Linked DNA regions of Homo sapiens. The protein of the gene in region 7 purifies or fractionates together with the protein of the main gene of each other region. This does not show direct contact. Each region holds a gene or a part of one and is shown on either strand. Other genes may lie near its edges. The genes, in order: ALG14, XPO5, RHOBTB3, GPR89A, FAM162A, ZDHHC7 and TSPAN31.

What was found.
Region 1: the proteins of TSPAN31 (region 7) and ALG14 purify together in Homo sapiens (affinity purification with mass spectrometry; one large-scale study listed by BioGRID and IntAct). This does not show direct contact.
Region 2: the proteins of TSPAN31 (region 7) and XPO5 purify together in Homo sapiens (affinity purification with mass spectrometry; one large-scale study listed by BioGRID and IntAct). This does not show direct contact.
Region 3: the proteins of TSPAN31 (region 7) and RHOBTB3 purify together in Homo sapiens (affinity purification with mass spectrometry; one large-scale study listed by BioGRID and IntAct). This does not show direct contact.
Region 4: the proteins of TSPAN31 (region 7) and GPR89A purify together in Homo sapiens (affinity purification with mass spectrometry, with the first as the bait; one large-scale study listed by BioGRID). This does not show direct contact.
Region 5: the proteins of TSPAN31 (region 7) and FAM162A purify together in Homo sapiens (affinity purification with mass spectrometry; one large-scale study listed by BioGRID and IntAct). This does not show direct contact.
Region 6: the proteins of TSPAN31 (region 7) and ZDHHC7 purify together in Homo sapiens (affinity purification with mass spectrometry; one large-scale study listed by BioGRID and IntAct). This does not show direct contact.

What each region holds. Positions count from the first base shown.
Region 1 is NC_000001.11:94,978,494-94,982,982, forward strand, and holds part of ALG14 (UDP-N-acetylglucosamine transferase subunit ALG14), read right to left. Parts: 3' UTR 1-4,489. UniProt on the Homo sapiens protein: Part of the UDP-N-acetylglucosamine transferase complex that operates in the biosynthetic pathway of dolichol-linked oligosaccharides, the glycan precursors employed in protein asparagine (N)-glycosylation.
Region 2 is NC_000006.12:43,569,519-43,574,007, reverse strand, and holds part of XPO5 (exportin-5), read left to right. Parts: intron 1-406; coding exon 407-528; intron 529-1,429; coding exon 1,430-1,502; intron 1,503-3,013; coding exon 3,014-3,151; intron 3,152-3,323; coding exon 3,324-3,506; intron 3,507-4,489. UniProt on the Homo sapiens protein: Mediates the nuclear export of proteins bearing a double-stranded RNA binding domain (dsRBD) and double-stranded RNAs (cargos). XPO5 in the nucleus binds cooperatively to the RNA and to the GTPase Ran in its active GTP-bound form.
Region 3 is NC_000005.10:95,786,465-95,790,953, reverse strand, and holds part of RHOBTB3 (rho-related BTB domain-containing protein 3), read right to left. Parts: intron 2,193-4,489; coding exon 2,096-2,192; intron 1-2,095. UniProt on the Homo sapiens protein: Rab9-regulated ATPase required for endosome to Golgi transport. Involved in transport vesicle docking at the Golgi complex, possibly by participating in release M6PRBP1/TIP47 from vesicles to permit their efficient docking and fusion at the Golgi.
Region 4 is NC_000001.11:145,624,604-145,629,092, reverse strand, and holds part of GPR89A (Golgi pH regulator A), read right to left. Parts: intron 1-4,489. UniProt on the Homo sapiens protein: Voltage-gated channel that enables the transfer of anions such as iodide, chloride, bromide and fluoride which may function in counter-ion conductance and participates in Golgi acidification.
Region 5 is NC_000003.12:122,404,127-122,408,615, reverse strand, and holds part of FAM162A (protein FAM162A), read right to left. Parts: intron 4,359-4,489; coding exon 4,253-4,358; intron 1,336-4,252; coding exon 1,227-1,335; intron 1-1,226. UniProt on the Homo sapiens protein: Proposed to be involved in regulation of apoptosis; the exact mechanism may differ between cell types/tissues.
Region 6 is NC_000016.10:85,001,536-85,005,035, forward strand, and holds part of ZDHHC7 (palmitoyltransferase ZDHHC7), read right to left. Parts: intron 3,049-3,500; exon of another isoform or gene 2,815-3,048; intron 1,709-2,814; exon of another isoform or gene 130-1,708; intron 1-129.
Region 7 is NC_000012.12:57,743,512-57,748,750, forward strand, and holds the start of TSPAN31 (tetraspanin-31), read left to right. Parts: upstream 1-1,527; 5' UTR 1,528-1,643; coding exon 1,644-1,706; exon of another isoform or gene 1,707-1,720; intron 1,721-1,911; exon of another isoform or gene 1,912-1,928; intron 1,929-2,233; coding exon 2,234-2,401; intron 2,402-2,664; coding exon 2,665-2,745; intron 2,746-3,077; coding exon 3,078-3,209; intron 3,210-3,506; coding exon 3,507-3,620; intron 3,621-3,704; coding exon 3,705-3,779; 3' UTR 3,780-5,013; coding exon of another isoform or gene 5,014-5,106; 3' UTR 5,107-5,239. Other genes in the region: CDK4 (cyclin-dependent kinase 4), read right to left, coding at 5,014-5,106.

The DNA.
Region 1 (4,489 bases), on a different chromosome or scaffold from region 7:
GCATTCATTATTCCTTCCACAGGTGTTTCTAAGAACAAGGACTGCAATTCGATGGTATATAACTCAGCACTAACCTTTGGTATGGGTGGCTATGTCACAGAGTTATTTAGAGAATTTGCTCAAGCTAAATGAAGACAAAGACTTTGTGGGTGGGGCAAAATCTAAGTTGGGAGTGAAGTAGAAGGAGGACAAATATTTAAGGCATTATCCTTTGGAACTCAGGTAAAATACCACTTTCTTAGAAAGGCCTTTCCTGATTTCCCTATCTAGAACACCAACTACCTTCTACTCCGTCATAGTACCCTGTTACCCCATTTATTTCCTTTTGAGGACATTTTTTCTTTTTTCTTTAAAAAAAAAAAAAAACACCTAACGTAGCTATTAAGGTAAGCCTGGCTGGAGCTAGAATGCCTTGGTTCAAATCTGAGCTTTGTCACTTTCTAGTTCTATAATCTTTAATAAATTACTTAACCTCTCTGTGGTGTAAATATTATAAAAAGTGGAACAAGGGCCGGACGTGTGGCTTACACCTGTAATTCCAGCACTTTGGGAGGCCAAGATGGGTGGATCACCTGAGGTTGGGAGTTCAAGATCAGCCTGGCCAACATGGTAAAACCCTGTCTCTACTAAAAATACAAAAATTAGCCAGGTGTGGTGGTGCATGCCTGTAATCCCAGCTACTCGGGAGGCTGAGGCACAAGAATCGCTTGAAGCCAGGAGGCAGAGGTTACAGTGAGCCAGTAAGGTGAGATTGCACCACTGCACTCCAGCCTGGGCGATGGAGCGAGACTGTCTCGAAAAAAAAAAAAAAAAAAAAAAAAGAAAGAAAAAAGTGAAACAAGTATACAGAACTAGCATGAGGGGAAGTCTCTGAAGACAAACATAAGTAATTAACAAAATCATTCATTTGTTCCTTCCACAGGTGTTTCCTCAGTTCCTCAATAAAACTTGCTCATCAAGCAAGAAATTTTTGTTGAAGAGCTGGCTTAGGTTGTAACTATGGGACTGAAAAGGAAAGGGTAGATATGAACTAAGTCAAAGGCAGAATCAATAGGTGATGACAAAGGAGAGGAACAGTAAAAGTAATTTCAAGGAGAGAAGAGGAAGACGAGAAAATTCTGGGGATAATGAAACAAAAAAGGCAACCAATTATAATTGGGTAAAGAAAGAGTGAAAAAGCAAAAATGATCCCAAAGTTTGTTGCTTGAGGGACATGATAGAAGCTAGTGGGCTAGCATTAGTTAACTACTCCAGTGCGAAAAGGAGGAGCTATGTCAAATTCATGTTTAAAATGAGTGGGCAGCAGGAACACAGTTGTAGATGATTTGTTTTTAGAGTGCTAGAGGGATGGGCCCTAACAAAAGAATGTTGAAGGCGGACAAGATTTGGGTGTCTGCTCATTGTGCGCCAGGGCTGAAGTCATGGGAAGAAACCCCGTGAGGCTCAAACGCTGACCTGTAGGGAGAAGGACAATTTTCTTTAACACTTACAATGATGTTCTTATTGTTGGTAAAAGGTGCTTAATACATTGCTATCAAATGCCTTTTGGGGGATGGGGCTTTTCAGAAAAAAAAAAAAGCACTCATTCAACCCAAGGAACTGTATAGTAAAGGGGTACGTTTCTCAATTTTAACTTACCATGTATCTTTGAAAGGTAGAATGATGTGTTCCAAGTTGCTTTTATAAGGGGAAGCTTGGGTCATCTCCTTCCTAGCAAGGACATCTTGCTATTCAACTCACAATTGTCACCACTCCTCTTGTTGACACGGTTTCATAGCACTCTTCGTTCCAGGCTAAAGTTTCCTGTCATGATTTTTGGGCATCCTTTTTGAAACAGTTAGACATTCTGACCTGGCAAGCTACTGAGACCTTTTAGGATAGCTGGACTGTAGATAGAAATCTTCCAGGGAAGTAGGTGTGGGCAGGATGTGTGGTTTCCCTGCCTCTCATTTGAAGACTGATTCAATTAATTTTTTCATGAACAGTCTCCTACAGTAAAAGTTGCATTCAGAGTGTTCTAAGAGAAACTGGAAGGGACAAGCTAGCTACTCATCTTCTTCAGTTTGAGTTGGGACTGGCGCACTATCTTTCTGAATGTCACAGAAATGCACAGCAGGGAAATTGTGCCACCAGCCCCCTCTGCTAATGGGACCTTGAGGACTCAAATTAGCCATAACAGTAACACACAGCAGAGCATGCACTTGTTTACCAGAGTAATCTGAATGATCAGGAAGATGCAATAACACATGTCTCAGCCTGGCTCTGAATGAGTACACAGCAGCCTGAACCTATGAAAGATATAACATTTCTAAACTTTTGGTGATATAACACATACACATTCTTTCTCTGACATTCCAGGCTAACCACTGTCTTAAGTTAAGGCTCTGCAAAACATCTGGGACATATGTTTCTGGAAAAAATTATAGCATCTTTTCTACAATTCTCTCTGGTCTGATCTTTGTTAAGCTCTGACCTGACAGAAGCCTCTGCAGCAGGATTACCTGTGGGGGCCCAGGGAAGCTGCCCCACAGCACAGAGAGGCATTCACTAAACGCAGTTCACTTTCCCTTACCATTCATTTACCTAGTGCCACTCAGGGAACAAAGTACAGAGCAGAGAAAGCCTTAAACAGCAATAAAATGCAGATGCTGTTGTCCCTGAAAAAATCACTTTCTTTCTAGAACAGTCAAGGCTTATTTCACCTCAGCCCCTGGTTGTATGATACTAATACGCTCTGATACTCCAGGGAAGCAACCAGTGACTGAGATTTGAGGATTAAAATCAAAGCACAATGAACTATCATTTGGCTGCCCCAGGCCCACTAAATCCAGACAGCAAAGTGTTCTCACCATTCTGAGACACCTTCGGCTACACATTTCTCCAGCCAAAAACCTAGGAAGATGTCCGGCTGACAGATGCGCCTGTTACATGATTCAGAGAAGACAGTTTTTTTGTTTTTTTTGCTTTTTTTTTTTAAAAAAAAAAAAAAGAAAAAAGGCTGGATCAGCCTCAGGATTTTAATCTTACATGATCGTGGATAATCATGTCTCTTTTCACAAAAATTCAATCACTTCACTAATCACTATTTATTAGATTTATATCATACTTATAAAGCAAAAGATTTAAGAGGAAAAAACCTATATATACTACAGGAGAGAATCTTCTCTTTTCTGTTTTTTATTTTGTTTTGTTTTTTTTTTTTTTGGCTGCTTTGTTAAAGAAGCAGAGGTTAGAGGGAAGGAAATGGAATTCCTGTTTTTGAGGAGCTCCTGGGCCAGGCACTGCACTAACTATTGTACTTCTATTCCAGTAGACATGGCACCACTAGAAACACAGTCTCAAGCAGGACCAGCGAAAGAATTCAGAGGGTCTAAAATATAAGTTCATTGTTTAAAAAAATATTCAGAAGTTCAAGAGAGTCACAGCAGAACATTAAACCAAGTGGAGGCCCTCTTCAGTGCAGAACTCTGTGTGACTGCACAGGCCACACACCCGTGAAACTGGCCCCACTAAGAAGTCAGGTTTACCTGAACTTGAATTCTGGCTTTGCTACTTACTACTCATGTGATCTTGGACAAGTCATCTGTAAAATGGGAATAATAACAGTCCCTACATCATTGAGTTTTGTTTTTTTTTTTTTTTTTTGAGACGAAGTTTCACTCTTGTCACCCAGGCTGGATGGAGTGCAATGGTGCAATCTCGGCTCACTGCAGCCTCTGCCTCCCGGGTTCAAGCGATTCTCCTGCCTCAGCCTCCCGAGTAGCTGGGATTACAGGCATGTGCCACCACGCCTGACTAATTTTTGTATTTTTAGTAGAGACAAGGTTTCACCATGTTGGTCAGGCTGGTGTCAAACTCCTGACCTCCAGTGATCCACCCGCCTTAGCCTCCCAAGGTGCTGGGATTACAGGTGTGAGCCGTCATGCCGGCCTAAACAAGAGATTTTAAAAGATACTCTGTATTAAGGCCAACTACTCAAAAAGCAAGACTGAAGTACAAAAAATGATACTGGTTTATGCTCAAGGTTCTGGAGGCTTGTGGAGTGCAAATTGTCATGAAGCCAATTTAATATAACTGCTTCCTTTATGCTGAAAGGATTCACTGGGGACATCACTGTTTCCATACAGGAAATAAAGCCTTTTGTATCTGAACCAAAACTCAGAAATACTTTTTTTCTCTCTTCTTTTACAATGCAGAATACTTTACAAAAAAAAAAAAAAAAAAAAAAAGCTGTAGGACAGGAAATATTACTAATCATACAAACTCTATATTTAGTTCTGTAAAAAAAATACTACTAAAACAGCCAGAAGAAAATTTGCAGGTAGTAATACATATTTTTATCTAGAAAAGAAATTTGGTTTACAGAGGCATAAACATTTAGTAGTTACGTTTATCAATGTTTGTTTCATAAGAGAAGCCTCAGTTTCTTCACTGAGTCATCTGTACATTTTTTATTCCTTACCATCAATAATTCTCAGGACTGTCAGAC
Region 2 (4,489 bases), on a different chromosome or scaffold from region 7:
AAATACAAAAATTAGCTGGGTGTGGTGGCGTGCACTTGTAGTCCCAGCTACATGGGCTCAGGAGGCTGAGGCAGGAGAACTGCTTGAACCTGGGAAGCAGAGGTTGCAGTGAGCCGAGATCATGCCATTGCATTCCAGCCTGGGCGACAGAGTGAGACTCCGTCTCAAAAAAAAAAAAAAAAAATATATATATATATATATATTTAATAGAGATGGGGTTTCGCCATGTTGCCTAGGCTAGTCTCAGACTCCTAGACTCAAGTAGTCCACCCATCTCAGCCTCCCAGAGTGCTGGGACAGGTGTGAGCCACCGCACCCGGCCCTGGTTGGAGTTTCTTAAGATGAAATTCTTTTAGTCCCTATTCTCTCAGCCCTCGAAAGGAAACACTAACTTTTCTTCTTTCAGTTTTGTGAGGAGTTTAAAGAAAAGTGTCCTATCTGTGTCCCCTGTGGCTTGAGGTTGGCTGAGAAAACACAAGTTGCCATCGTCAGACATTTTGGCCTTCAGATCCTGGAACACGTTGTCAAGTAAGGAGCTCTTGGACATTACCACTGAAGTCTGAGAGAACAGATCTTTATATCTTATATAACCTATAGAGATGCTGTTTAGGTGAGTAGAGAAGAGCAATCTCCAAGAAGAGAGGAATGATCCCCTAGATGTTATCAGAACCTCACAGGAGCTCTCATTCAAGATTTAACCTTTCTTTTCTTCAGTTTCTTCATCCATGTAAAGTGTGTGGTACATATTACCCATTCAACAAATATTACCTGCCATTTAGCCAATACTTACTGAGCTCTGACTATATGTCATTAGCCCTCGAAGCCTTTTTAGAGTAATGCAATGTATAGGTCAATGAATCTCTGATTAGGCACTGTGGCTTTCTTTTTTCTCTCTGTCTTTCTGAGTTTGTGTGCCTTCTCTGGGTGGTACATCCAAAGCAGGATTGTATGAGAATAACTGAAAACCCATCCTAACTTGATTGTCCTACCCTCAACACCTATCAGAAGAGGTAGCCTTTAAGACTTAGCCATAGTTTTTCCAGAATTGTTTTGTAAGCCAGCACAGAAAATGACTGATGTCAAAACTGCATTTTCTGAAAAGCAAGTACATTGTTGCAGTTGACCTAGATGTATATTCACTTTTGGCCCATCAATAAAATCATGAGGCAAAGCTGACGTGTGGTACAAATCTTGTGCGGATTCCAGTTAATGGACCACTGCATATATAAAACCTTTTCCCAAGAATTTTTGTGTTAGTATTTTGGTTAAATGTAGATCATTTTTGCCCATTCATTGACAGGTACAAAATCAAAAGTATAATTTCTTAATGAAATCTCCAGTGTAATCAAATGTAGAAATCCATGCTATTCTCTTGTAAAGACAAGACTTCTAAAGTGGTTCTATTGACTTTATGCATTTTGGTGGTCAGGTTTCGGTGGAACGGCATGTCTCGATTGGAGAAGGTGTATCTGAAGAACAGTGTCATGGAGCTGATTGCAAATGTAAGGAATGGGTGGTTGGGAGACATGTTTCCAAGGTAGTTTAGGCAAAGCGTGACTTCTTCAATAGGGAGTTTGTGTAAAAATTCACTGCTTCTAAATAGGTCAGACAGCACAAGAAATCATAATTTAGGCCAGGCACAGTGACTCACACCTGTAATTCTAGCGCTTTGGGAAGCCAAGGTAAGAGGATCACCTGCATCTAAGAATTCGAGAGCAGCTTGGGCAATGCAGTGAGACCCCATCTCTACCAAAAATGCAAAAATTAGCTGAGCGTGGTGGCGCATGCCTGTGGCCCAGCTACTCAGGAGGCTGAGGTGGGAGGATTTTCTGAGCCCAGGAGGTCCAGGCTGCAGTGAGCTGTGATGGTGCCATGGCACTCCAGCCTGTGCAACAGAGCAAGACCCTATCTCAAAAACAAAACAAAACAAAAGCAGAAAGCATAATTCAGCATATGTCTCTTACTAGGTTTAATTAATCATGCTTATGTATTGACTTCTATTTTTTAAATTATAAAGACAGGGCAGAGGGGATTAAATATTTTCAACAAATCAATAAGATTCTTAGATCTAAATTAGATTGAAACACTATTTTCTTTTATTCCAAACAACTACTATGTGATACTAATGATGAAAAACATGCAGAATTTTAAGTATGCAGAATGAATTTGTTTCAAGTATTAGAATATGACTTTTTTTTTTTTTTGAGACAGAGTCTCTGTTGCTCCGGCTGGATTGCATTAGCATGATCATAGCTCACTGCAGCCTCGAACTCCTGGGCTCAAGTGATCTTCTCGCCTTAGCCTCCCAAGTAGCTGGGATTATAGGCATGTGGTACCATGCCCAGCTAATTTTGTTTTTGGTTTTTAGAGAGACAGGGTCTCACTGTGTTTCCCAGGCTAGTCTGGTCTCAAACCCCTGGCCTCAAGCAATCCTCCCACCTTGGCTTTCCAAAATGCTGAGATTACAGGTGTGATGACTGGATGACTGTCTCTTTAAACACAAAACAGAATATGACTTTAAACATGTTCAAAATTGTAGCCTTTTTTCTTTCTTGGTTTTTTTTAAATAACAGACATGAGAGATGGGATCTTCTAATACTTCTGCGTCTTCTAGTGTTAGAACTATTGGTAAAATATTCATTTGCCCCTTCATACCCTTCCATTTTACCAGCTACTCACTATACTCCTTATTTCTATACTCTTCCTCCCTGGCCTTCTGCAAACTGAAACAATCAATATGAGAATCTTTTCATTTTGTAAAGAATAATGATGTCATCCTAGCTCTCGATATGACAGCCTTTTAGGTGATGCAACCCTCACTTAAGCTTTAAGCGGAAGAGTGATTAGCAAGAATGCAGGACAAGTGACTCAGGCTGAAGAACAGGTTCATTTGTTCTGTTTGGTTTAAAAGTAGGCCTGCTGATAAATTTTTTACAACTCTACAGCCCAGCTTTTTTCTGGAAGTCTGGAATCCAGTCTTGCATATCTCTTAATATCTCTTGTTCTTTTTCAGGGAACATTGAACATTTTGGAAGAGGAGAACCATATTAAAGATGCTCTGTCTCGAATTGTAGTGGAAATGATCAAGCGAGAGTGGCCACAGCATTGGCCTGACATGCTAATAGAATTGGACACTCTTTCCAAACAAGGGGTATGAAACACAGCTATATCAGTTTGGTATACTTTTCCTTGGAACAAACTTCAGGGTTTGTTGTTTGATTTTGTTTGTGGGTTTTTTTTTTTGGCAACAGAAAATAGCCTTTGGATATACATAAAATGAAAAGATATTTTAGTTTTTAACTAGCTTATTTCTATTGGTGTAGGAAACACAGACAGAATTGGTGATGTTTATCCTTTTGCGACTGGCAGAGGATGTAGTGACTTTTCAGACACTTCCCCCTCAAAGAAGAAGGGACATCCAGCAAACATTAACCCAGAACATGGAAAGGATCTTCAGTTTTCTGCTTAACACACTTCAAGAAAATGTAAACAAGTATCAGCAAGTGGTAAGGGATACCCCTACCTATAACATTTCTATTTTCCAATATGAGTGTTTTTGATTAATCTTACAGTAAGGAACTAGGGTGTCTAGGTCAGCAAAATGAAATCCTATTTTATAAGCAAAAAAATAAAAAACTAGGAAATGACAGAAAAACTGGAGCTCATTTTCTTTCTTTTTTTTTTTTTTTTTTTTTTGAGACGGAGGCTCGCTCTGTCACCTAGGCTGGAGTGCAGTGGTGTGATCCCGGCTCACTGCAACCTCTGCCTCCCAGGTTCAAGCGATTCTCCTGCCTCAACCTCCCAAGTAGCTGGGACTACAGGCGCCCGCCACCAGGCCCGGCTGATTTTTTGTATTTCTAGTAGAGACGGGGTTTCACTATGTTAGCCAGGAAGGTCTTGATCTCCTGACCTCATGATCCGCCCGCCTCCCAAAGTGCTGGGATTATAGGTGTGAGCCACGGCACCTGGCCTTTTTTAAAAAAAAAAAAAAAAAAAAAAAAAAAGATAGGGATCTCGGCTTACTGCAGCCTCCACCTCCTGGGATTACAGGCATGTGCCACCACACCTGGCTAATTTTTGTATTTTTAGTAGAGATGGAGTTTCGCTGTGTTAGCAAGGCTAGTCTCAAACTCCTGACCTCAGGTGGTCTACCCACCTTGCTCTCCCAAAGTGCTGAGATTATAGGTGTGAGCCACCGAGCCCAGCCCTAGGTGTTATTCTTAATTTTATTTTCAGAAGTTCTTTAGGAAAATACTAATTTTTTTTTTTTTTTTGGAGAGGGAGTCTCACTCTGTCACCCATGCTGGAGTGCAGTGGCACAATCTCGGCTCACTGCAACCTCCGCCTCCTGGGTTCAAGCGATTCTCCTGCCTCAGCCTCCCGGGTAGCTGAGATTACCGGTGCCTGCCACCATGCCCGTCTAATTTTTGTATTTTAGTAGAGATGGTGTTTCACCATGTTGGTCAGGCTGGTCTTGAACTCCTGACCT
Region 3 (4,489 bases), on a different chromosome or scaffold from region 7:
TTGCCACTAGGATGATGGGCCTGGGGTAGCCAGATCTTCCAATTTTTCAAAAGAAGCCAAAATATGGTTATTTTTAAATACCAGTACTATATATTTTTAACTGTGGGGTCCCAATAAAACACGTTGGCAGGCTACACCTAAACCATAGATGGCCAGTTAGTAACTATTGATTTAGACAATTAAATTCTCCCTTATCCAAAAGGCGCTTTTTTCCTCTGCCCAAGAGGATGACACCTCATAGCAGGACCCTGGACAGGAAGAGGCACTGCAGAATGAGAGTTCTCATGATTCCCTTTTAATTCCCATCAAAGGAACAGAAGGCAACATCGACACATCGTTTCCTCCTTAGCCTGCCACCTCACATCGCACTGGAAGTCCTGCTTTGCACCATGCCAGGTGTCATAACATACTTTATAGGTAATTGGGTAATACCATATAATGAAAATTCATAACTAAAAGGATTTATAGACCATCCTTCTCCCAAGGTTGTAATAGTACTCCATATATACCATATATCTATACAAGATAGTAAGTAGAAAATAATCTTATTCTTCTCTTACAAATAAGAGTGACCTCAGGTAACATAATGAAACTGGCTCCAGGACCAAAGTGCAATTCATTTAACTTTTAGCAAGCTTCTTAAATAACTATAGAAGCAGCTACTTAAATAACTATAGAAGAATGTTCCTTCTGACAGCAAGCATACACAAGCCTTATCTTTATGAACTGACTGTTTTTTCCTTGCACAAAGTACATAGCTAATAAATAACTGTTGTTTTGTTTTGATGTGATTATGCTTCTCTACTGTACTAATAGTTGACTTATATAAGGAGGCTCCTAATAGACATATAATGTTTGTTGACTGGCTGAATACATCTCCCAAAAACGGATTGTGTGTTCCTGGGTTTTCTTTAACTGCACAAGTAGCTGAATAAAAACAAGAGATTTTTACTCTTTTTTCTTTTAGAGACAGAAGTCTCGTTATGTTGCTCAGGCTGGACTCAAACTCCTGGGTTCAAGTGATCCTTCAGCCTCAGCCTCCCAAGTTGGCTGGGATTACACCGAGGTGGAATCACCATCTTGACCATATGATTTTTATATCTTTTACCAGCAGAGTCTTTTTTACGAAGTAAAATTTTAGGTAGAACTCAAGATATGAAACAGATAAAGTGGAACTACTATGACTGAAGGAGGGAGGGAAGAGTCCAAGAACTGTAAATTTTAGCCTTCTCTTTCCCTTTCCCTTACTCCCTCTCTCTCTCCTTCTCCTCACCCACTCCCTACTTTCTGTCCCCCACCCTAGAAGACACTTCAGTTATCTCCACGGAGATTTATTTGTCCAGATTGTGAAACTCCTTGATCAGGTAATCTTTCACTTCCTTTTCTTTTTAGCTCAAATTTTCCTTGAGTCTATGCTAGATAATAACATGAGCAAACCACTGCATCTAAACTGTCTATTCTGACAACTATTATATTTTCATTTTTTTCTTTTTATGCAGTACTCAGTAGTTCACACTTTGGTTTTAATTTTTATAATTTACCTTAGAAAGCATATTACATACACTCCCAGTAAGTTTCACAACATTTTTTATATATGAAAAACTGTTATTCCAAAGTAATATAAGGGACTCCCATATAGGTATACTCAGTAAATACAGATATCCAGTACAATAAAGCTAAATATAATATAGTTAACAAGAGTTAAATTCCTTTATAAAAAATTTTTAAATCTGTACTGTTTAAACTTTGCTGCTGACTTAGGTAGTTAGAACTAAGATATCACTTTTCACAACCAAATGTCACCTGAGGACACATTTTGTCACCTTATCTATTTCAGGGAAAGAAAATGCATTTAAAAACGGATGGAGCTATAAAATAATCATTAGAAAACTTCTTGTGTAACACAGGTTAAGGCACTTATGTAACACAGGTGACTATAAATTGTTTCCTCAATTACCACACTGCATAATTTACAAGAAATTTATTACATTGACTATTCTTATTTTGCTAAAAGTACTACTTCTACAACTTATGTCTCAAATCTAAGAACAAAGAACATAAAGTTTTCTTTTCAAAACAGAAATTAGCAATCTACCTGAAAGATCCTGAAATTCAGGCTTTTGACTGAAGATGAGGTAGTTAGTAGCAATGAAATGAAGTAGCCAGGTTGAAAGGCAATCAGAGTGGTGAAACTGCAAGAAAAATGAAAAGTGAAATAATATTGCACATAATGGCCACTGGTATGATAAGATCAAGAGAACGGCCTGGGAGCAATCACGGAGAGCCCATATTCATGTTTAATGTGCCTTTACCTGATGCAGCTTTCAGTATACTGTGACAGCAGACAGGATGAGGGAGCACTATTAGCAAATAACGTTAAAAGTACATTCTCGGAAGAAGCCAGGCCAACAGCGAATAACAATCTACGGCTGCCGGAGTGGCCAAACGTCTTTAAGCAATGCATGGCTGCATCTGAGGTTCTTGAAGATTTAATTTGAGCTTTTAATCTGAAGCCACGGACTTCAATAACTGCACCTGTATCTGTGTAGTAGATGATGGTGAGCAATGTTAAAACAAGTTCACCTGAGGAGCAAGCCAAAAAATATTTTGAGGAGGAAACACCATCGGCCGAAGGCATGGGTTTCAATGTGTAAATGTTTCTAAGAGAAAGCTGTGGCTAAATATTTGCTTTTAATGAGATGTACAGTAAACTGAGCAGGATTTCCAGCTCCATTCTCCTCATTCTGAGTTCCAATAGCTGCTAATGGAGGGAAAACTCCAAGCAAGCAGGCCACTGACATCATCACCTTGGTGCCCATCCAGTGACACTCACTGATCCATCCAACCACCAATGCAGATGACAGTAACTTGCTGGCAGGCAACTTTGGCACATGAGTATAGAACTCTTTTTTTTATTATTATTATTGTGGTACAATATGTGTAACATAAAATTTACCATTTTAACAATCCTTAAGTGTACAGTTAAATGTCACTAATAAGTGCATACACATGGTGGGGCAACCCAACACCACTATCCATTTCCAGGCCTTTTCTATCACCCCAAACTGAAACTCTGTACCATTAAACAATCTGTTTTCTCCCTATCCCTATCAGATCCTAGCACCCACTGTTTTACTTTCTGTCTCTATGAATTTCACTATTCTAGGTACCTCATATAAGTGAAATTCTAAAATATTTGTCCTTTTATGTTTGGCTCATTTAGGGTAATATTTTCCAAGTTTCATCCATGTTGTAGCAGATATCAAAATTTCACTCCTTCTTAAGGCTGAATAATATCCCATTGTACATATATACCACATTTTGTTTATCTCTTCACCTGTCAATGGACATTTGTGTTGTTTCCACCTTTTGGCTAAGTATAGCTCTTCTAAGGAGATGCAAAAATATTAAATAAGCAACAAGTAATGCTAAATTGAAGAAAGATTAGTAATCTCTAAACCTTAATAAAAAAACTCAAGGATATGCTTTTTTTTTTTTTTAAAGCTGTATAGTGTGAGAGTATTTAAACACAAATTCACAGGTCCCTCTTATATTCATTATATAAAATCAATTTTTGAACTGGAAATAAATTTATAGTTTATCTAATCCCACATAACATTTTAACAGTTTTTTTCCTCCCCTTATCTTTTAGCAGATGAATGTGTGCAATCTCAAGGGAAAAGAATAAGAACCTTCAGCTTTTTAGAGAAGCCACCACTACTGTTACGTGATTAACCCAGAGCAGATAACAAAACACCAGGAGGTTAGGACATTGCCTTAAGGGCTGTGACTGAGAAGGAAAAGGGAGGTCACAGAAATAAACAGCTGGCTACAAAGCATGCTTAAAAATGAAGAATTTTATTTTTGACCAAGATTTAAGATATTATCCAAAATATCTTAAATACAGTAGGATGACACATCTGAATAAGCTTTCCGCTTCCAGGAATGAAAGAACTGAGGAATGAGGAATTGGTAGCACATGTGGGGGTTTGGGAAGTAGATTTCAACAGAGCAGTTCTAGCTAATGTACAGACCTGGCCCAGATTCATAGTCTAGGGACTCTGTAACAGGAATGGAACATGTCTCACTGTAAAAACTAGGTTTTAGAAGGATATGTGTTGACGTAAGAAAATGGGTTCAAACTGAAATAAGCAACAGAATTTTTAAAAAGGCATTAAAAAACCATAAACCAAATGCAATAGAACTTAAGAGCTACAAGAAGAACGTGGAGAAAATACCCATAAACTCACAAGAAAGTACCTGGAAACTCTCAGAAATACAACTTGTGCCTCAGATAGCCAAATATTAACATATAGATTATAAATAAGAAGATGCATTAAAATTTTTAATACAAGAATAAATACAACTTCATAGGAATCACCAAAGTTTGAACAGATAGGGTTTAAACAGGAGTAGAGATACGGAATCTCCACCTCAACTCTTGTATTTTAAGAGTCCTCCTTGATGGAAACCTGAAGGTAAATCATGG
Region 4 (4,489 bases), on a different chromosome or scaffold from region 7:
CCAGCTTGCCCCTACGCCACCATCTTGGAACTAGCAGTCACCATACTTTTGATTGTATTCAATCCCTTCCACCTCTTTCAGAGTCTTGTTCCATCATCTGTCTCCTCTCTCTTGTATATTCAATATTTCCTTCTTTGCTAGTTCTTTCTCTTTAGTTTCAATTCTCTTTTCTAAGAGAAATTCTGTTCTTGGCTTCGAGTTTACGTCTAGTTACCAACCCCCATCTATTTCCTCCTTAATAGCCAGGCTTCTTAAAAGAAGTTTATAGTTATTGTCACCTTTTCTTCACCTCCAGTTCATTCCTTAACTGACTGCAATCCAGCTTTCTTCCCATTCTTCTTTATTGAATGAAATTACTTTCACTAGTAATTGTAATGGCAATAGGTAATATTCACCAAGCACCTGCTATGACTAGGCACTGTTCTAAGCATTTCACATGTTCTAATTCATTTAACCCTCATAACAATCCTATGAGGTAGATATTATTGAAAACCTAATTTTACAGATGAAGAAATGGAGGCACAGAGAGGTTAAGTAACTTAGTTAAGGCCACACAGATAAAAGGGGCAGAGTCAGGATTCAAGTGCAGTCTAGCTCCAGAGTCTGGGCTTTAACCACTACGACACTATGGTAATAAGTTTTCCCCTGGTTGCAAAATTCAACATTTTCCAATCCTTGTTTCATTGGCTCTTTTATGACATTGAATCATTTTTGTTTAAAATTATTTTATCTTCTTGGCTTCCACAACACCATTTCCCTAGGTTTTCCCTTTTACTTCTCTAATTGCTTTTTCTTGGTCACTTCTTGCTCTGTCTGGACCAGAGTTCTCACTTTCATTTCAGTATACACATTTTTTGCTTAGGTGATCTCACCAATTTCCCCAGCTTCACCTAATGGCATTTAGTTGATGATTTCTAGTTGTTTAGATTCCTGGAGTCATCTCTATGAGGACTGATACATGTACACCTTTTCCCTAAGCTCCTGATTTGTACATCCAATTGCTTATTTAACATCACCTGGATATGCATAAGTAACTCAAATTCAGCATATACCAAACTAAAATTATCTTTCCCCTCAACTTGTTCCTTCCTCTGCATTACCTGTCTTAGAAAATGACATAATCACCCTAACAATAAAATCTATACACTATACGATTACTTTCCATTCTATCTCTTGCCTTTCCTTGAATACACCAAGGTCTTTCTGCCTCAGGGCTTTACATGATGTCTCCTGTGCCTTCTTGCTGGGTCTTCCTTTGGTCTTGTCCTTTAAATCTCAGCTTAAATATCCCTGTCTCAGAAAGGGTGGATCTAACTGTTTGCACTACATTATCGGCATTTTTCTCTATCACAGCAACCTGTTCACTCCTTGATGACAATGATCACAATTGGCAATTATTTATTTATATATTTACCTCTTTATTGTCTAGTTCCACCCACAAGACTATCAATTTCAGGGGGGCAGAAACCAAGTTTGTTTCGTTTGTGGTTTATTTCCAGTGCTTAATTTATATAAAGTGGATGCTCAATAAATATTTGTGTAATGCTGAATGAACGAATAAATCCTCACCTAAATTCTGTTATTCTACTTGCCGTATACCTCTTGAATTTGCAACCCCTTTACAAGAAGACATCATTTCTTATTGATCTTTGTTTTCCTTACTGCTTGGCACATATGAGGTGTTCAACAAATGTTTGTTGACTATAATATCACTCAGTAACATAAAAAATCCAAGAGATTAATATGGGCTATTAAATTTGAAAAACTGAAAAAATTCCCCCTCTACCTTTATTCCTTTTAACATGGTGTCTTTGTCCTTTTATTACATATCTTTTTCTGGTTTAAAGTACTTTGTAGATACTATTTACTTAATCTCAGCATTTCTATGAAGTAGGAGTCAGTCATCATTATCCCCATTTAGCAGTTAATACATGGAAAGTCAGATGAATAAGGAGACTAGCAGAAGATCATCTCACCTTTGCCACCTGCTCACACAGATTCCTTACAGTCTTTTGTAATCTCTCTTACTCTTTCCCACTAAGGACATTCCAAGGTTGGTTCAGACACCGCACAAGAAGTACTTTTACAGATTATCTTTTTTTCATTTTACATAAGGATTGGTCTTATCTTTTTTTTTTTTTTTGTAGAGTCTCGCTCTGTCGCCCAGGCTGGAGGGGAGTGGCACGATCTCGGCTCACTGCAACCTCAGCCTCCTGGGTTTAAGCAATTCTTGTGTCTCCGGCCTCCGGGGAGTAGCTGGGATTACAGGCATGCACCACCATGCCTGGCTAATTTTTCTATTTTTAGTACAGATGGGGTTTTGCCATGTTGGCCAGGCTGGTCTCTAACTCCTGGCCTCAAGTGATATCCCTGCCTTGGCCTCCCAAAGTGCTGGGATTATAGGGGTGAGCCAACCTGCCCAGCCCATTTTTTTGTGGTCACCACAGCAATAAACAACCATACTGGTTGTTGGGACAGTCCTGGGAAAGCTCTAAGAAGGCAGTGTAAGGCTGGTTGCTTCTCAGCTACTACCTAAACTTTTCTTCCTCCTTACTTATCTTAAAGGGTTAAATAAATTAAGATACCTGAACATTCAGGCATAAAACTGTAATGCCTATTGGAGTACAATGGAAAGAATAAAACTGAAACTATCTCCCTAGCTTTCTCCCTCAGTGTCCTTTTCAGGGTAATCCCATAGAATTTAGAAAAAGGGGTGGATGAAAGGACAATAGATACAATGGCCTTCATCTTCCCTCTGGTGCGGCCTGGCTGCACTGGTCATGTGAGCTGAATGCACACAGGAGAAAGCTGGAGAAAGGTGTCAGAGTCGGGTCTTTGTAGTGCATGTGAGACTGTATTTGCCCTGTCAGCAGCCCTGGGGGCCTTTTCTAACTCTTCTCTCTGACTTCTACCGTCACAGATAAATGTGTCTGTCTGTGGGTTTCTTTGAAATAGGTTTATATGAGAACTATACTACCAGGACTCTTTAGTGCAAGTCGTTCCCTTTGTTGACCATTGACATAGGCATGCTGATCACATTAGCATTTCCTAAATTCCTATCCAGAGTGTTAAAGTAGTAAACTCATCTACCACTTTGGAGAGACTCAATTTTCTTCCATCCACTGATTCAAAGAACACGTATTAAACACTTGTTATGTGTCAGTTTCCACACTAGGCACTGGGGATACAAAGACAAATAACATGGAGTTTTCTGACCTCAGGGAGCCCATAGGTTGATGAGGAAGTTAGAAAAGGAAACATGAAATTTTAAGTTTTATAGATGATATAGATACCTTGAGATGGTAGCAATTAATATCTCCTAATGATGGCCAGGAAAATCTTCCTAAAGGAATTGACAAGAGTTGAATCTAGAAAGGATAAATAGGCATTTTCTAGGTAGACAGGGTTGGTGAAGGATTGTCCAGGCTGATAGAACAGCTCTAGAAACTTGAGGCTGGGTGTGGTGGCTCATACTTGTAATCCCAGCACTTTGGGAAGCTGAGGTGGGTTGATCCCCTGAGCTCAGGAGTTCGAGACCATCCTGAGCAACGTGGAGAAACCCCATCTCTATGAAAAAATACCAAAATTAGCCGGGTATGGTGGCATGCGCCCATAGTCCCCGTTACTCAGGAGGCTGAGGTAGGAGGATCACTTGAGCCTGGGAGTCGGAGGTTGCAGTGAGCCAAGATCATGCCACTGCACTCCAGCCTGGGTGAGAGTGAGACCTGTCTCAAAAAGAAAAAAAAAAAGAAACTTGAAATAATTTCACAGGACTGGAGAATGCAACATGTATAGAGAGCAGCAGCCAGGTCATGAAAGGTCTCATACGCCACCTAAGAGTTTGAATGCTTTTGGCAGGCTGGTGTTATGTTAAGTTTTCCGGCCTTTAACGTTATTTGAAATTTTGAAAGTTATTCTTATTTTAAAAATACACAACTATTTATGGTATTGCATATGCTTTTCAAAACTGCATATCTCCTCTGATCTTACTGCAGGAGAGTCTCATAACCTCTCTCCCGAAATTCCTGCTATAGGCAATCAGTATACATGGAAGGGTGTGTGGGAGGTATGGCAGATTCTATAATAGACACTGGCTCATTCAACATTAATTCCAATATCCTTTTCCAGCATTTGTTTTGGTACTACAGAGTTTAGAAAGCCAAAAGCCCCTTCTCAGACTTCCTTGAGGCCAAGGTTTTAAATATTACCTAGGTTTCACCAAAAAACCCGGCCCATGTGAGGCCTCAGATGCAGAAATGAACAATGTAGGGGTGGTGATAGCACTTAGGAGCTCAAACAGCTGGGACTGAGGTCCCTGATGTCATAGACCCTGAGTGGCAGGTGATAACTTCAGTGAGGTTTTCTAGTTTAGTATTGTGGCATAGTTGGGTATTTCTCTTCACTATATAGCAGTTAAGCTTTGCATCCCTACTTTCCTAGAAAGTCTATAAATTGCCTGATACTGTATAATTAATCACTTTCTGCTTTA
Region 5 (4,489 bases), on a different chromosome or scaffold from region 7:
GAACAGAGTTTTCAAGAGAACTTCACCCAGCTCAGCACATTTGCCCCTTCGTACTCCCATGAGGTCAGCCTAAAATGGTCAGTATTTCCATTTAACTGCAAGAATGAAGACAGCCAAAAGTACATTTCCTTTTACTCTGGAATTACTGAGGATAAGAAAGTCAGTTAAGAGTGCGTGTATAGAAGGACCTTTTTAGTATCTTAAAGTAGTTGTAAGACATCACTTTCCACATGGAAGCTGTGATATATAGAATTATACATGGTATTAAAAGAAGAATTTGACCAAAGCTGCTGAATATAAAAATAACTATGGCTTAATAGCAAGATAGTATAGTATGAGGTTTGGTAACCTGCAAACTTGGGTCTAGATTTTTATCTTGCCACTTGTTAGCTGTGTGAGTTTGGGAAAACTATTTACCTCTTAGGGTTATGGGGGTGATTAAGTGAGCTTAACAGTGCCTGTTACATAATAAGCACTCAATAAATGGGAGGAATTTTCCTATTACCTGAATTGGGTCTAGGTTCACACTGTGGCTCGTCATTAAGGAGATATGTGGCCTTGGGCAAGTTACTAAAGCTTTCTAAGCTATAGTTTTCCTCATCTATAAATCAGGTCCTAATAATACTTATCTTACAGTGTTTTTGTGAGGTTCAGATGAGATACCAGCTAGAAAAGTACCTGGAATGCAGTGAGTGTTCAATTAGTGATAGCTATTAATTATAATCTGTGCTAAAGATTTCTGGACTTGTATTCCTATGTACTGCTTAGGAGCTGTGGTCCTTAGACACATGGCCCTGTCTGGCTGAGCTTCAAATAAAGAACCCCGCTAAGAAAGCTCACCATGCTGAAGGCAGTTATGGTGAGGGTAAATACACTTGGGTACCAAGAGCACTCTGGAAATATGCAGTGGGTGATTAAATATGCCAGTGTCCTATTTCTTAATTTACATTATGACACCTGTCATCAGAAACACTTTTTAAATTTACATTACACAAAATGAATCTAGTCCTTCTTCACCACGCCAAAGTTAGGATTTGCTATCTATCCCCAAGGATGATATTCCAGGCTTGTTCCCAATATGTCTTATTTTTTTGCTTATCTTTTCTCATGTAATGTAGAAAGTAGCCTCCTCTTCTCAGAGGGTAAATACAAGGGTCAATCCCTGATTTACTCTAGGTTCTTGGTGGAGAACATACATACTGGATAGAGAAGAAACCCCTTCTCACCTTCTTGCCCTCAATAACCATGAAGATGCATCCTACCACCGTCAGGGCAATCATTAGATAGCTGATCTTCACTCGCATCTTGTTCTTTGCAGCATCAAGCATCTCCAACCTAGTAATACAATGAGATCATGAGAGAAAGTTATTAACTTTTCCCTTTCTGAAGTTGCTCAGGATAAAAGGCTGTGTATAAATTCAAAATGTAGTAGTGTCTATAAATATAAATAGGGAGACCTAGAGATCTCTTTAAAAAGGGCCTAGAGATCTCATAGGACTTTGGGGAGGATGAGGCATTTTTCGTAACTCATTTATGTATAAAATACAGGATAGCACACAATTAAGTACAAAAGAAGAAAACAAAAAGAGAAGTCAAGAACAAAGCCAAAAAAAAAAAATGGGCAAGGCATATTAATCTACACTTGCTATGGTGGACCCCAATTTTGGCTCTCAGGTTTCCAAGCAGCCTATAAATGCTAGAAGTGAAACAGTCATTTCTCCCTGAGGTTCTTAAGAAGACATTATGTGATGTAGTCATCGTCTGAAAACATCTCGACAACAGATACTACAATAAGCTTCATATGTTTCAACACAAAGCACAATTCAGAATGATCAAACATTGGAGAAAGTTAACCAATGTGCTCCATATACCCAGCTTTTTGCTCTCTGTCTTGAACCCAGAATAGATTTGAGAATATCTAAAATAGTAGGAAGATCCTTTAAGCAATGCTCCTCAATATTTATCTTTTTAAACAAATGTTTTGCTAAAATTGAGTGACAGTGAACTTGATATTGTGGTCTTTGGCAAGTGCCAAAGTGCAGCTCTTCTAACCTATCTACTGAATACAGACCCATGTGCCTTAAAAAAAAGTTGATGGTTGGTTCATCATTCTTGTGTGAAACCTAAGAGGCTTAATATAGAAGAGTCTAAAGGCCAATCTACCTTGGTGATTTTGCAAGTAGGCAGTGAGTCATGGTTCTATTTTTAATTTACTTTATTTAAAGAGATGGGGTCTCACCATGTTGCTGACTCAAAATCTTAGACTGAAGCGATCCTCCTGCCTCAGCCTCCTGAGCAGCCGGGGCTATAGGCATGCATTGCCACACCTGGTGGTCACGATTCTGTTACCTCGGTGTCTGGCAGAACCTCAAGGCAGGGGATGTGGAGCCCTTATGGGGCCCAGGATTAACTTATGGCCTTCTCAGTAGATGTGTAAATAGGAAGTGATTATCTCTAGATGATGGGATTGAAGTGCTTTCTTTCCCCTGAGATATTTAACATATATTACTTTTAAAATTGGGGAGGGGAGTACTTTAAAAATGCTTGGAAGGAGGCAAAGAGTCTGGGATGTTGCAGGTGGAAGGAGGAAGATGATGAAGCCATGTACAATGTGATGTAGGAGCTGGGACCTGTGAGGCAGCATGTGGACGGGGTTCTCCAGGCACTTAAGCTGGGCCTGCAGGCTGGCAGGAACCCAAGACAACTGCTAAGGACTGTCAAATTGGTCAGTTAGGAGCACCTGAGATTCCACTAACCACAAACTGACTTCCCATGTTGACGGTATTTTATGGGATTTGAAGTGCCATGATCCTCATGAAAAGTAATCCATTCCATAGGGAGTAATAGGAATGGGCAAGTTAAGCAGTGCCTGTTCAGAACTACCAGCACAAGGACAAATGGCTGCCCAGGCCCAGAAAAGACCCTTCCAGAGTGATTCGTGAGGTAGTATTTTGGGCCTGAGGGGATCTTGGAACCAACTATTAGGCAGACTGAGGAAGGTGTTCTATAGCAAAGCCTATACAGCATCTGTTAAGGCCATGGGTGTCTACCAGCTTATTTTCTGCTGGTATAGGAAGAATTAGGGCATAGGCAAGAACCTGATGTCACTGTTATTTCCAGTATTCTCTTATTTCCCAGAAGAATACATGACTTGAGCTAAGAAAAACCAGGGCTTTCCTGCTGAAATAATTCTAGTTAAAGTAATGTGCTATCAATTTGACTGGCAGAAGCAGAAAAGCTCTATTAAAGCTGTTGTAAACAGAAAGTAAATACTACATATTTCCCTGGGAAAGAAATCCTGAATGAGCTCAGATCTTTTTCAATCATGACTTGAAACCAGAGACCAGAAGATCCAGGAATAGTTTCTTGCTGACAGGGAACTTCCACGAGCTTTGTCTGAAGTCCCTGTCCCTGAATAGGATGATGCCTCACAGAGGAGATGACATCTATTTCTCAGAATCTCTTTTTAGCCAAGATGCCAGCCAGTCAGGGTCTTTAACATGAGGCTAGGGCACTGGTTCTCAACCAGGGGAGATTCCCACCCCGCTCGTGCCCCTTGGACATTTGGCAGTGTCTGGAGACATTTCTGGTTGTCAGCACTGCCGCAATGCTACGGGCATGTAGGGGGCAGAAGCCGGGGATGCTGCCAAACATCTTCCAACAAATAGGACACCCCCCTGCCACAAAGCATTATCAAGCCCCAAATATCAATAGTACTGAGTTGAGAAACTGGGTTGGAGGAACCTGCACTCATCATCTACAAACTCTGAAAAAGTTCCATGATCCCAGCCAAGATCCCTTCCCTTAGGTTTAAGGAAGTTGGTGACAGGAAGCACTCTTTCCTGAATTCCAGAATATTGCAATTAAATACTTTTACACCTAAGGTTGAGTACTTAAGTGGATTTGGGGGAATACAGTCATTGTCAATGGTACTTAATTTATATACCTAGATTAAAAACAAACTTTAAAAAAGTCACACTTCTGTAGCCAGGGGATGAAATCAAATAATCAATTGACTTCAGAGTACCTGACAGTTCTTCACCAGTCACTGTGTAACTTAACAATGATAAGACACAGGTTTTCTAGCATTGTTTATATTCCAAGTACTTACCAAAGATAAAACATTTGGAAAAGTGAAAAATGTTTTCAAATTTGGTTGAAAAGTTTTAAACAGTTGGAACTCAGAGGCATTGCTTTTCCCTTAGATCAGTGAGAAATGAAAGCTGCTTGTAATACTAAATTCAGCACTCACGAGACAGTCTCTGGGATTTCATCTTCCTTTTTGAAGCGACCTGACCATATGAGGATCTTTTTCTGCCAATCCGTAGGTTTGTGTAAAGGCACTCTGTTGTAAGTGCCTATGAGAAAAACCAGACAAGAAATTTTATGTGTTTGAGATTATAACTCTCAAATTTAACAACAGAAAAATGGTATTAGTGCTTTTTAACTAGTCACTAAACAGAAACACTGAGAAACCTCAAGTTAATTA
Region 6 (3,500 bases), on a different chromosome or scaffold from region 7:
TCCAGGTAAGCAAGAGGAGGAAGCTAGAATGACCTAAGTTTTTGGTTTAAGGAAGATACAAGCAGTTGCATATGGAAATATCTACAGATATGTATACACACATGGGTTAGCATCCACACATATATTTACTTGCTCTGTCAGCTGAGACGGCCTAGAAGCAACACACCAACAGCCACCAGCACACCTAATTCCCAGATCTTGGTTTGTTGTTGTTGTTTAATATTCAAGATGGGATCTTGCTAGTTGCCCAGGCTGCTCTTGAATTCCTGGACTCAAGCGATCTTCCCATGTCGGCCAAAGTGCTGGGATTATAGGTGTGAGCCACCACAGATCTTGGTTTTTAATACCATTCTCTAATAAATAAAAGGAACCAGGACTGAGGCAAAAAAAATAAATATATATACAAGATGAGCTTGGAGCATCTTGTATTGCCAGAGAATAATGAAGTGTTCACAATACACACACACAATCATGGGGACAGGTGGGCTCATGAAAGGGATATAGGAACCAAGTAAAAGAGCTCCCAATGGCCAAAGCTTTTTCCAGGAAAATAAAATAGTATTGCTTTATAACCCGAAGCATCAAGTAAACATGCACGAGTCCAGACTGATATAAAGCAGTGGCTGAATAAACAGAAAATAGACAAATACCCAGCGCCACGAGTCCGAGGAATGCCTGTGGCTCCTCCTCCTCCAGCAGGGAGGACGCTGCTCCCCACCCCTCAAGTATGGCCGTTCACAGGGACAGTTTCTAACGAGTGGAGTACGGAAAGGAGGAAAATAACTTTACTGAGGAGAAACTTGGCAAACACCACCTCAGTCAGCCAGGTGTTCAAGGCCACATCCATAGCAATGAGTCCTGTGGACAGAACACAGCCTTGACAGGCTGTGGCGAGACAGGCCCTCTAACTGCATCACCCAAGTCTAGTCATAAGGAAAATATCAAACAAGTCCCAAGAGAAGAGCATCCTACAAAAAAATCCCTGACCCACAGCACTGCTCCCAAGTGCCAGTCATCCAAACAAGGAACGCCTGAGAAAGCACCACAGCCAAGAGGGGCTGACGAGATGTGCCCACTCATGTCCTGTGTGATCCTGGGTGGGATCCTGGGACAGAGAAAGGACATTAAGGAAAAGCTGAGGAAATCTGAATCAAGTGTGAATTTTATCGATAGGAGAAAGCGTGGGTGGAGTGGGGGGATGGTCGACAAAGCGGAATGATCCTTCCTCCCTGGAGGAAGAAAGGGGAAACCCGGGCATGAAGAGAAGTGAAAGCAGTTCACTCAGGAAGACGAGTGCTGAGTGTCTCAGCAGAGAGGAGGAGCGGGGCTGCGGCGCTGGGAGGGCCTATGGAGACCGCAAAATGGAAATGGGGTGGAGAGGCGGCGGCCAAGAGGGGCCTGAACTGTCACCCTGCAGGGCCCAGACAATGCTGACACCTTAAGTGTCTCATAGAGGATGGGAATGGCTGGTCCTTTTATCCAAAAGCCCAGCCCAGCACCATAAACTTACCCAGGGCTGGAGATTAGCCAGGATGATGGGCTAGAAAAGCAGAGTAACGAAGGCAAGACCAAGATGCAAGCGGGAGAGGCCAACCTCAGAGTCCAGGGGGCAGGAGGAGAGGCCTGGTAAGCCAAGTGACCGAAACTCAGGGCACTGAGGGCCCGAGGAGCCTGAGAAACAGACTCAGAGGAAGTGAGGGGCAGGACTGAGGCTGGGTCCAGGGGGGCGCTGTAAGATCCGGAGGCAGTGGTTCCTATGGGCCGTGCAAACGGGGCCACATCCCAGGTATGCCACCAGCCCGGATGAGTCAGGGAACCTGAGTCAAGGTGGGGAAGGCTACAGAGGGAGCTCACGTCCTCCCTCAACTCACAAAAGGAGCGCAGCACTCAGCTGACCCACTGCAGTGAGCTGATGGCGACTGCGCTCCTAAGTGCTCTTGCCATCAACTGGCAATCATGAAATATTCAGTTTGTCCTTTCAAATCCTACCATAGGAAATGATGCTCTAAGAAACCATGATTTTCTACTCAAATTACTGAATCCAAAGATCAGAATATTACTTTTAAGGAAAAAAAAAATCCACACCAGAATATTAACCCAACTCAAGCCAGATCTCAATGATATGCTGGCACGTAAGTCATACGGTGAATAGTGACATTGCCTGACCTTTCTAGAAGGGCATTTCATATTAAAATACTTAATCACTCTACAGTAGGATCAGAACACTGCAGATCAAAAACATGGCAAAGTGGGGGAACACACACAGCACACAATGAACCGTGGAAGTGGGAGAGGGAACACCAGTCTCAGGAGTGAGGGGCCTGGGGGACAACACTGACTTCCCTTCCCCCTAGCCACACCCGGTCTCTGACTGGATACTTCTCCTCCACCCATGTAAACGCCGGGAGCACCCGGGCTTAGTCCTCGGCCTTCCCTTCATCTACATGCTCTCCACAAAGGAGCTAATGGGGAACCTCAGTTTCACGAAGTTTAAACAAAAAAAGATATCTGGAAAACTCTCAGGCTGACGATGCATCCCTAAGGGCGTCTATCCAACTGGCCACTTAACAACTCCAGGGCAGGAGGGTCAAAGCAGAACCTCCCCCACTCAGTCACGACCCCACTCTTTCCCATCTCAATCAACGGCACACCACACCCAAAAAAAAAGGCCCCGCCCTTCATGTATCTCATTCCCCACCTCTCCACATCTAGCTGATCAGCAAGTCCTATGGGGTGCACCTCTAAACCTACCCCAAATCCGACCACTTCTCCCACCTCCTCACCCGCCCAGACCAAGGTCCCATGAGCTCTCACCTGGGGAGTGCTTAGATCACCTGCTGACCAGTCCTCTCTCTACTCTCATGCCTCTGCTCACCCAACAGTCCAGTCCCCCATGCAGCACCCAGAGTGGTCTTCCACAGACGTAAATCAGATCATGTCACTCCCCTCCCTAAGCTCATGCAATCACTGCCTTTTCAGTGCGAATAAAATCCCACCCCACCCCCCACTCCACCCCACCACCATGGCCTAGAAAGCCCCACTCCATCTGGAGCCTGCTGGCCTCCCTTCCTAGCAGCCTCTCCCTGGCTGCTTGTTCTGCCATCACCTCAATGGAATGTTACTCATAGTATCCCCAGCACTCCCGGGTTCACCACGCACTCCACAAACATTTCTTGAGTGAATAAGTAAGGGAAGGAGGGTGCTTGAGGGAGACAAGAAAAAGTAGAAAGGAAGTCCACAGGCAAACGACAGGGGCGTGTGATAAGATCTGCCAGGGGAGTGGGCCAGAGGCCCAAAGGAGCCTGGCAGAAAAGGAGTAGAAGAGAAATGCACAAGGGTTATAGAGAAAGAGGGAGACGGGGGTGAAGAGAAAAACCCCACCTGTAGGCAAGTCACAACTTCAGGTCCAGAAAACATGTGCGCGGGACCTCACTAGAGCACGCAGGCCAGATGAGGTGGCCTCCAAGGAATGCTTACTCGTACCCCAAAGGTTCCCCTTT
Region 7 (5,239 bases):
GTGGTGGCGGGCACCTGTAATCCAGCTACTCGGGAGGCTGAGCCAGGCAGGAGAATTGTTTGAACCCGGGAGGTGAAGGTTGCAGTGAACTGAGATCGCGCCACTACACTCCAGCCTGGGCGACAGAGGGAGACTCTGTCTCAAAATAATAATAATGATAATAACTTAATTACCTTGTTTCAAGACCCAAACACCTCTCTCGCCCTGTCAAACATCTATTCTCCTGCATACCTTTTTGGTATTAATTTCTGTAAGAGTTTATATAAATACTGTGTAGTTAAAGATAAGGGAATTGAGGTTGGAATTGCCCACAGGAACCTGTAAAATGACCTGAAAAGTAATAACTAACATTGAGTGTTTACTATATGCCAGGTACTGTTCTAAGTATTCTACATATATTAACTCATTTAATTCTTACAACCCAAGAGGTAGGGTGTGTTGTTATTTATCCCCATTTTACAGATGAGGAAACACGCACAGACAGTTTCTAAGTGCCTGGCCAAAGGTTACGCAGCTAGGAAGTGGCAATCTGACTGTGGCAGTAAGTCTATAGAATCTAAGTACACACAAACTTAAATCATTCTGTTGAGTTGATTGGAGGGTTTTCTTTTTTGTTCCTACTGTTTCTTTCTCCTGGGGAAGAGAAGGATTATGCCTTTCCCTACCCCCGTGAGAAGGACGGTTTGTCAAAGCACTTACTAGATAATAAAGTTGTTGATCAGCCTACCCCCAAGTGAAAAGGTGGAGGCTCCTTCCACTTATATTTATGTAAATGAGACTCTTCCTCTTGCCTGCCGTTTTTTTGCAAGCCCTAGATCAGGCGTGTACTCTGAAAATGCTGAGCACACCCCTCTGTGCACTTGTGGCAATGCCACATACAGGAATGCGCTGGCCTGAGGCCGCTATTTCCACACTGAATTTCTGGTATATTCACACCCCTTTAGGAGGAGATATGGAACAGGACATGGGTACTAGAGGACACACAAACGTGTGATGATTTGCTGGGTGTTGCTGTGTCCAACCCGCGGACTCTGCGGCCGGGCTAAATAAGCTCAATATGTGGCTCCTTTGGGTGTTCCCGAGCGTGACGCAATAACAAAACAATGGCGTCATCGTGAGGTCACTGCAGAACAGGGGGAAGGGGGTGGGGAAGGGCCCTCCTTCTACGGGCGGAGCCCTTTTTGCCCAGCTCTCAGAGCGGCCCCCTACCCGCCCCTCCCGCCGTCTCCCCTTCACCTAAGTTCCTCCAGAGCCGTCTCCCTGGGAATTAGCCCTCTCCTAACTCCGACCACAGAAAGCTCAGCTTTCAACCTAAGCTTTTGGAGTTTAGGCTGTAGTCCCTAAGAGAGTCTCTAGAAACCCTGCCCCTAGTTTTAAGTTTCGCCCAATGAAAAAACAAAAGGAGAGGGACAGAAGGCGGGTCGGTGACGTAATGCGGGTTGATTGGCATGCAGGCCTTGGACGTCCAGGATTAGCCACGCATTTCGCCAATCCAGAGGCAGGGGAGGGACGGTGCAGGCGCAGAGTATTGGGTTTGGCTGGCCTCGATTTAAAGAGACAGAAGCTGTCGGGGTCCTGGAAGACGGTCCCCAATACCCTCCCCCCAAGTCCTTGGGACCACTTGGGTCCCCAGAGCTGGGGAGATGGTTTGTGGCGGCTTTGCCTGCTCCAAGAATGCGCTTTGCGCTCTCAACGTGGTCTACATGGTGAGGTTTTGGAGGTGGGGGAAGCTTCAAGGCGGAAAGGCCCCGTGGGGAGAATCTCTAGGGTACTTCCGGTGGGGAGAGGGGTGTATGGGGGTTCCGGGAAGATTCCCAGGAACTTCCGGCGACGAGGGAATTCCTGGGGACTTCCGTGGGAGAGAGGAGACTTCCGGTTGATTAAGGGGGTTTGTCTGAGGGTGGGGGAATGAACTGAAGGCCGTGGGCGTAAGTTCCATACCTCCTTCCTGTGAACCTCAGTTTCTTCCAAACTGGAAGTGATAGGATGATCCTGAGGGTTCATCTTTTGCATTCATACTACCATCCCTGCCACCCCCTCCCCGCCATCCTAGCCATTCTAACCTTTGGGAGTGCCTAGGGATGCTCCCGGTGCGGATAGCACCATCCCCAGCTCCCATTCACACACTATTCCATTATTCCTTCCCCCTGCCCCGCTCCCAAGTCCTCTTGTATGGCCTTGGGCTGTGCCGCATGCTAGAATTGTTGAGATGTATCCTGCTCTTTCTTCGTAGCTGGTGAGCTTGTTGCTCATTGGAGTGGCTGCTTGGGGCAAGGGCCTGGGTCTGGTGTCCAGCATCCACATCATCGGCGGAGTCATTGCTGTGGGAGTCTTCCTTCTCCTTATTGCAGTGGCTGGACTGGTGGGTGCTGTCAACCACCACCAAGTCCTGCTGTTCTTTGTATCCTGACCTGAAGTGATGGGGGCAACCGGGGGCTTGGGAGGGCTGTCATCTAAGGAAGATGTTAGAAGGGTAGGGGACCTCAGGGATCTTGGACACGTCTCCTTGCCCTGCCCTGTCCCATAATCTACGAAACAAGAGCTGATTTTATTGCTTTCAATTTGACATGGTGGTGTAAGTTCTATGAACAGATGAGACCAGACAGTTATTATAGATGAAACATAAAGGAATCTAGGACTTTTTTCCATAACCTTTCCTCTCAGTACATGATCATCCTTGGTTTGGTCTTCATCTTCCAATTTGTAATCTCTTGCTCATGTCTGGCTATTAACCGAAGCAAACAGGTAAGACAGTACCCTTTCAAGTACTTACTTGCTTTTTAAAATTTTCCTCTTAACCTCGAACTCCTTCCTTAGTCTGGCCCCAACTACCCAAAGATCATCCTTAGGTGCACTGCTTCTGGCCTCTTGGGCTATTTGCTTCCTCTGGGATGTCTGGTTAATTTTCCATGAGGATGATCTAGAGAACCTCAAAAGGTAGATATTTATCGTGTCTATAATTGTTGCACACCGTTATGCTTCTGTTTGACTTCCTTTGCTGGGCTAGGGAAATTGAGGCACTTGAACTGATAACAGGATGTAGGGAGACTTAATTTCCCTCTACCCATATCTTTCAGACAGATGTCATCAATGCTTCTTGGTGGGTCATGAGCAACAAGACTCGGGATGAACTGGAAAGAAGTTTTGATTGTTGTGGCTTATTCAACCTCACAACCCTGTATCAACAAGATTATGATTTCTGCACTGCAGTGAGTGTGTTGGGGGTGGTGCAGCAGCCAGGGGAGGTAGGAAACTGGGTAAGGACAATGCCCAAGTTGGCAAATTTAGTTTGAATGTCATTGTTTCTCTCTCTACAAGCCCTCTTGTATTGGGGCTGTGTTGGTGGGAGGTGGGGGTGGATAGAGGCTGGGGAATTAGCCAAGTAGGATTTTAGTTTGTAGGACACTGGTCAGATAACAGTAAAGTTTCTAGGGACATTCGGCATAGGTATTAGTCACTAGCAACTTTACATTCACAACTTTGCATTCTTCACGTTTTATCCTCAGATCTGCAAGAGCCAGAGCCCCACATGCCAGATGTGTGGAGAAAAGTTTCTTAAGCATTCAGACGAAGCCCTGAAAATCCTAGGGGGTGTTGGACTCTTCTTTAGCTTTACAGAGGTAACATTCTCCAGTTCCCTCACACACATCCTTTTTGAGACTGAGAATTAATTGATACTTATCTCTCTCCCTTTGTTCCTACAGATCCTTGGTGTTTGGCTAGCAATGAGATTTCGGAATCAGAAGGATCCTAGAGCCAACCCCAGTGCCTTTCTATGAGACTTTGGATCCTTCTGACTTTTCTTCTGCTCTCTCTAAGCTTTCTCTTCCTCCCTTAGGGAATATCTAGGGTCTGTAACCGTTTTGGTTTGAGAAAAAGGAAAGGCCCCTTGTCACATCCTCTAAAATTGATGGAATAGCAAGACTTTATGCCTTGACATATTTTAGTGGGAGCCAGACTATAAGGAATAAAAGGAAAAACTTTCTTCCTCTCTCTCCAAGAGGATATGGGAAGCTTCTGTGAGTGCATAGGATGGGGGCTGGAGTCATTCTTAGCTGTTTCCCTTCCTCTGTCCATATACTGGATCACCTCAACATACCCTGGTGTGGCTCTAAGGGTAAATCAGGGATAGGGCCAAGGAGAAAACAACCAAGAACTCTTTCCTGTAATAAGCAGGATCCAGTTTGAGAAAGTTTAGCGAATATAAAAGTAAAAGCCATTTAAAAATCTATATTCTTTTTTTTTTTTTGACACAGAGTCTTGCTCTGTTGCCCAGGCTGGAGTGCAATGGCATGATCTCGGCTCACCGCAACCTCTGCCTCCCGGGTTCAAGCGATCCTCCTGCCTCAGTCTCCCAAGTAGCTGGGATTACAGGTGTGCACCACCACGCCTGACTAATTTTGTATTTTTAGTAGAGACAGGGTTTCACCATGTTAGTCAGGCTGGTCTCGAACTCCTGACCTCAGGTGATCCACCCGCGTTGGCCTCCCAACGTGCTGGGATTATAGGCGTGAGCCACCACGCCCCGCCTAAAATCCATATTCAAAGAAGCAATTTCAGTTCCTTTCTAAGCTTTGTCAGTCAAGGGGCTCCACTGACTTCCTAGGCCCTGTAATTTAACCAGTCTTTAAGGTTTTGCAGGAAAGTCCCTTCTTCCAAGTGGTTTTTCCAAATCGCACAATGGCAAAGCCAAACAGAGGAAGAAACATTAAAAAAAAAAAAAAGACCATTATTTCTTTGTTTTGTTTTTCCTGTATAAAAAAGGACCCCAAATATAAAGGTAGGGAAAGGGACAAGAGGGAACATACCCCTTAGTGTAGAGAAATGGGAAGGAGAAGGAGAAGCCTCAAAAGGAGAGGTGGGAGGGGAATGTCATTAAGGCAGCAAAGTAATCTCTGTAGAAAGATGGAGGAGGACCCTCCATAGCCTCAGAGATAAAGGCAAAGATTGCCCTCTCAGTGTCCAGAAGGGAAATGGCAGCTTTTCTTCCTTCCATGGCAGCCACTCCATTGCTCACTCCGGATTACCTTCATCCTTATGTAGATAAGAGTGCTGCAGAGCTCGAAAGGCAGAGATTCGCTTGTGTGGGTTAAAAGTCAGCATTTCCTGAGGGGAGAGGCAAAGGTCAGAAAACCATGAAGAAAACAGACTTCTGCCCACCCACAACAATACCTGGGATGAGCTTTCTTCTTTTTTCTTTTTTTTTTTTTTTGAGACGGAGTCTCGCTCTATCACCCAG